Regions from separate parts of the Homo sapiens genome. Here region 2 is reported to be linked to region 1. Evidence: microRNA targets listed by miRTarBase, many of them from high-throughput screens and not tested one by one. Region 1 holds a microRNA gene; the other region holds the end of a gene's coding sequence.

Evidence for each region. Region 1 holds the annotated microRNA hsa-miR-4438 (CACAGGCUUAGAAAAGACAGU, at 1,447-1,467, shown strand). A microRNA usually pairs through its seed, bases 2 to 8, with sites in the 3' UTR of a target mRNA and lowers its output. Matches are read on the target gene's strand: a 7mer-m8 pairs with bases 2 to 8, a 7mer-A1 pairs with bases 2 to 7 and ends in A, and an 8mer does both.
Region 2: the mRNA of ZNF454 is a reported target of hsa-miR-4438. Seed matches in the 3' UTR shown: 7mer-A1 at 626-632.

Annotation. Positions count from the first base shown.
Region 1 is chr2:213,756,676-213,759,836 of GRCh38, forward strand. MIR4438 (microRNA 4438) reads left to right here and starts at 1,392; the gene lies at 1,392-1,484. All of the region lies in intron 10 of SPAG16 (sperm associated antigen 16), which reads left to right.
Region 2 is chr5:178,965,682-178,968,681 of GRCh38, forward strand. It overlaps ZNF454 (zinc finger protein 454), which reads left to right. Exons shown (of 5, transcript NM_001178089.3): 5 at 1-752. The coding sequence ends at 292. Among named protein-coding and RNA genes, the nearest start is that of ZNF454, 26 kb to the left of the region's middle.

The DNA of each region.
Region 1 (3,161 bases):
TAAATGGCTAATGTATACCAGGCCAATTAAAATTTAACGGCCTAGGATATGTGTGGGTATGCATGTGTATTTATTTAAAAAGACACTCAAATAGTTTTTTTTTATATGAAGAAAGTAAAGCTTTGACACTGAAATTAAATGATGTAATAACTGTTATATTCAGCTAATATCTCAATGATGGCTTTGAGGCAGTTGATAGTAGATAGCTTTTTTAAAGAAGTGTTTTTGAATGTTTAGCATATGAAACCCTTATGGTGTTGTCTTTATAGAGCAAAGAGGGAATAAAGAAATGGAATGTAAAAAATCCTAAATATTCCACATAAAAAAGCTTACTAGAATTAATAAATGTATTCAGCAAAGTTGCAGGACACAAAATCAATATGCAAATATCAGTTGTGATTTCATATACTAACATAAATCTGAAACGGAAATTTTTAAAAATTGGGTTAAAATAGCATCAAAAATACATAGAAATATAAACTTAACAGGAGACTAAAGACTTGTTCTCTGAAAACTACAAACATTTCTAAAGAAAATAAAGATGGTAATAAATAGACATATATATTCATGAATTAGATGACTTAATATTGTTGTCCATACTACTTAAAGCTATCCACAGGTTAAATACCATCCATATCAAAATACCCATAGCTGTTTTTTTTTTCTGAAATAGAAAAAGCAATTCTAAAATTCATATGCAACCGCAGAGAACCAAAAAGAGCCCAAACAATCTAAAGAACAAGCTGGAGGTCCTGCACTTCCTGACTTCAAAGGATATTACAAAATTACAGTAGTTAAAACATTATGGAGAAATAGTTATAGAAATATGGTGGAGTAGGAAGCACCAGGAATCTGTCTTCCCACCTAGAGAACAATTGTACTGGCAGAATCTGTCTGATATATAACTATTTTGGATTTTTGACATCTACTAAAGGCTTGCAACTTCTAGGGGAAAGCTTGCATGGCGAATTATGATTAATTTCAGTCAATTTCAGCACTTAACCACAGTAGTAGCTACCCATTTCCCACAGTCACCCCTGTAGCAGGCAGCTGTGCACATGTTACTGGAGCAGTCTGCACAGAGCATGCAGGAACCAGAGTGGGCAAAAAAAGGACCTGTCATCCAAATATCGGCAATCTTTGCTCTGATTGCTGATTGCTGTTTCTGGTCACAAAGATGGACGCAAAGAGGTGAGTGGTTATTGTTGCACCTCTATCCATTATTGCAAGCCCCTCCCTGCTGGCTGAAGTGACTTCCAGAAGATTAAAAGGGCCAGTGCCCTTCTCCTACTTTATTTTTCTGTTTTTCCCCCTTTGACAGCTAGACATTAAAAAGTAGGGCATTCAAAGTAACTGCACATATGGTGACAATCAGAAAATGACTAAGTTACTAAGTGTAAACTTAAGGACTGTCTTTTCTAAGCCTGTGCCTTGCCTTTCCTTTGGCACAGGCTTAGAAAAGACAGTCTTTAAGTTTACACTTCAGACTGATTCTTGGCACAGAGATAGCCTACAACAGAATCCTCTTATGACAATATAAAAAGCAAAATCATTGACTGAAGTAACCGCAAACTCTCAGTAAGAGGGAGAATCTAATTTTTAGAGTTACTATGTTATTAGATCCAAAATCACAATTCATACAAAAAATTAAGAAACTATGTCTTGTCCAAAGGAAAATATGAAATCCCTAAAATGACTTGATGGTGGATCTGCTACAGAGGGACTTTAAAATAATTGTGTTAAATGATCAAAGAACTACAGGAAGATATAGAGAAAGTCAAGAAAATGATATATGAACAAAATGAAAAAAATTCAATGGATAGGAAACCTCACAAGAAGTTAAAAAAAATTGGGAGCTGAAAAGTACAACAACTTAAATAAAAAATTTACTAGAGCGATTCAAAGGAAGATTTGAGCAAGCAAAGGAAACAGTCAGTAAACTTGAAGATAGGACAATGGAAATCAAGGAACAGAAGGAAAAAGAATTGAAAAAAGTAAACAGAGTCTAAGGGACCTGTGTGACACAATCAAGGAGTCACAGGAGGAGAGGAGAAAGAGAAGAGAAAACTTGAAGAAACAACGGATAGAACCTTTCCAAATCTGATAAAAGACATTAATATAAACATTCAAGAAATCCAACAGAATTCAAGGAAGATGAACTCAAAAAGACATAAACTGAAATACATTATAATCAAAGCTTTAAAAGGTGGAGACAAAGATAGAATCTTAAAAGCAGCAGAAAAACATCAATATATTACTTATAAGGAATAATCAGTAAGATTATCAGTATATTTCTCACCAGAAACGTTGCAGGCCAGAAGGCAGTGGGCTGACATTCGAAGTGCTAAAGAAAAACAAAAACAGAAAACATTATCAAACAAGAATCTTATATCCAGCCAAACTGTCCTTAAAGTGAGGGCGAAATTAAGACATCCCCAGGAAAACAACAGTTGGGAGAGCTTGTTACCATTGGACCTGACTTGCAAGAAATCCTCCTGCAGAGTGAAATGAGAAGACACTAGACAGTAACTTGAAGTTGTGTAAAGAAATAAAGATCTTAATAAAGGAAAATACATAGAAAATTATAAAAGCTTATATTATTGTAACAATACTTTTTAACTGCACTTTTCGTGTTCTACATGCTTTAAGAGGTTAATATATATATATTTAAATTTGTATAAAAGTTCATATTATGCTTTGTAACTCCAATTTTGTTTTGTACATAATTTAAGAGACTAATGAATTTAAAATACTTACATGTTTATATTTTTGTATAATACATAAAGATATAATTTTGTGACATCAAAAATTGAGAGGGTGGGGGAATGGAGCTTTTGAAGGAGCCGAGTTTTTATATATTATTGCAGTTATGGTGGTACAAATTTAAATTAGAATGTTATATATGCAGGATCTAAAATATAATCCCTATGGTAACCACCAAGAAAATAGCTATATACAAGGAAATGAGAAAGAAATTTAAGCAAATCACTAAAGAAAATAAAATAGACAACTAAATATAAAAGATAGTAATGCAGGAAATGTAGGGAAACATCTATAAGCTATAACGAATTCAAATAGTGGCTGGGCGCAGTGGCTCACACCTGCAATCCCTGCGCTTTGGGAGGCCGAGGTGGGTGGATCATGAAGTCAGGAGATCGAAA
Region 2 (3,000 bases), not on the chromosome of region 1:
ACTAGCCCAACATCAGAGAATTCATACTGGGGAAAAACCTTATACATGTAACATATGTGAAAAAGCCTTCAGTGACCATTCAGCCCTTACCCAACATAAGAGAATTCATACTAGGGAAAAACCTTACAAATGTAAAATCTGTGAGAAAGCCTTTATCCGAAGCACTCACCTGACTCAACATCAGAGGATTCACACAGGAGAGAAACCCTATAAATGTAATAAATGTGGGAAAGCTTTTAACCAGACTGCAAACCTCATTCAGCATCAGAGACATCATATTGGAGAGAAGTGATATGAATGCAGTTTGTATGGAAGACCTTTGAGACTGAGTAGATGAATTATTGAATGTGAGATAATCCGTTCTAGAGAATAACTATGAAAGCTTGCATCAAGATAGTCACTTTATTTACTGAGGGTCAGGTTTCACAGTGTCATGGGGTTTGGGCATTTAAGAATGGCAAACACTCGGCTGGGCACAGTGGCTCACGTCTGTAATCTTTGGGAGCACTTTGGGAGGCCGAGGTGGGCGGATCACGAGGTCAGGAGATCGAGACCATCCTGGCTAACAGGGTGAAACCCCATCGCTACTAAAAATATAAAAAATTACCCGGGCATGGTGGTGGGCGCCTGTAGTCCCAGCTACTCGGGAGGCTGAGGCAGGAGAATGGCATGAACCCGGGAGGCAGAGGTTGCAGTGAGCCGAGATCGTGCCACTGCACTCCAGCCTGGGCGACAGAGCAAGACTCAGTCTCAAAAAAAAAAAAAAAAAAAAGAATGGCAAACACTCCTCATTCTTTAATACTGCCTCAAATAGCAGTACTGTTTGATTTGTCTGAATTACCAAGCATCAGAACCAAAATGGAGCTTCATTAACAGCATTAAAAAATTGGTTTATCAAATTACATTTTGACTATTAGAGAAACTGAAATTGTAAAAATTAAAGCTGAAAAGCAAAGGAACAAAAAGGTAAAATGGCCTACGAGCGTTGCACTCTACTAGATTCTCTTACATAAGAGAGTTGCCAGCTTTAATGGAAGCCTTAGTCCTCTCCTCACCCACACCACCGACACCCAGTGTAGAGAAAGTACGTCACCCACACTTATTTAAACCATGCTTCCTGCCTTTTGCTTCAAACCATCCATTGTCAGATCTCTCTGGTCTGTCTGCTGGCTTCATCCCTGTAGAATCCCTGTGAGACGATTCATTTGCCCCAAATGACCCTCTTCTGACTTAGCAACGCCTAACTGTCTGCATGGTGCCACCTATCACTGCCCCTATGGGGAGTGTGGTGGTCTGGTCTCAGACACAGTCCATGATGTTGAATATCACACCCAAATCCAGCCTTCAGAACTTGGTATCTCTGTCCAGAAGGCACAACTTGATCAAAATTCTTGAGTTATGCATTTCCTCTGGGCTTCAGCTTGACTGATCCTGGGATGGCACCTGAAGGAGGGGCTTTGCCTGTGCCGCCTTTACCCTCCAATTGTTCTGTACTTAGTGACTCTACACATCAGTCAGGGACTTGCTCAGCTTCAGGTGCAATGATCCCACCCACTTACGTTGTACTATTCCCAGTCACCTCCATCTGTCGCTGCCCATTTCTCTATGTGCAATTGATATAAGAGGTGAAAGCCCCAAGGCCAGTTCTCAGAATGCTCTGACCCACTCTCTTCCCCTGGCTGTACAGTCCACTGTGTCCACTGCATTAGAGTACATTTACTACTCCCAGGATAAACTGCTGCATCCTGGTCCTTCCCCTGCTTTTTCTAGGTTTCTGGAGGTAGTAATTCTATATTCATAGGAAAGCAGACAGCTTTGAATTTCTGCTTTTGCATTTGGAAGTGGTCATTTCCTCTCCTCCATCTGGGCCTTCCACTATTTAAAGACTCATGCTGACAGTGGTGAGAAAAATGTTGAGTAATTCCATGAGTCAAGAAGTGGTCACTAGCACCATTGATATTCTCTGGCAAGGGCCATGTCCGTGTTCAAAAGTTTGAGTGGTACAGTCGTCCTGCAAGTATGGTTCCTTTACCCTGTTTTTTTTTTTTCTTTTTCTTTTTCTTTTTTTTTTTTTTTGAGACAGAGTCTTGCACTGTCGCCCAGGCTGGAGTGCAGTGGTGTGATCTCGGCTCACTGTAACTTCCACCTCCTGGGTTCAAGTGATTCTCCTGCCTCAGCCTCCCGAGTAGCTAGGTCTACAGGCACCCACTACCATGCCCAGCTAATTTTTTGTATTTTTAGTAGAGTTGGGGTTTCACTATGTTGGCCAGGCTGGTCTCAAACTCCTGACCTTGTGATCCGCCCACCTCGGCCTCCCCAGGTGCTGGGATTACAGGCATGAGCCACCGCACCCGGCCACCTTCCCCGTCTTTAATCCTTCAGTGCTTTCAGTAGAAATCACACAGATAAGTAACATCTGTGCATCACACACACACACACACACACACACACACACACACAGCCTCTGAGGGCCCTCTCCCTTTTCCTACCACAAGGAATGGAGGAGCCTTCACTACTGCAAGCTGGAATATATCATGCAGTGAAGATGGGAGGCCAAGCAAATTTTTCTGGAAAGTGAAGTGGCAAGTTCCTGGTATGTGGAAGTGCTGTCCGTCAAGTTGAGCAACCCCCTGACCCCTCAGAATGGAGCACCTCACCCCCATGTTACAGAAGAGGATATTCTATATCATGGTAGAACTCAGTGGGCTCTGGGTTGCAACATAGACTTGGAAGCTTCCAGCAGCTTCAAAGTCCAAGTAATCTAAATTCAGCCTTCATCTAATAAAGGCCACCTTTGTGGGCCAGCATCTCCTGTTAGCTGATCAGCAACTCAGACTTTCTTCCCTATTAAGCTGCATGTGAAGCAGTATTTCAAGAGGTTTCTTGGGATTGCTTGTGTCCCATGTCCTCAGAAGTTCATCTGCAGCTTCACGCAGCTGACACCCTCAGATTCCAGAGTAAACCTGAAAAAACCACGTTCACTGCTACAGATGTCTGTCT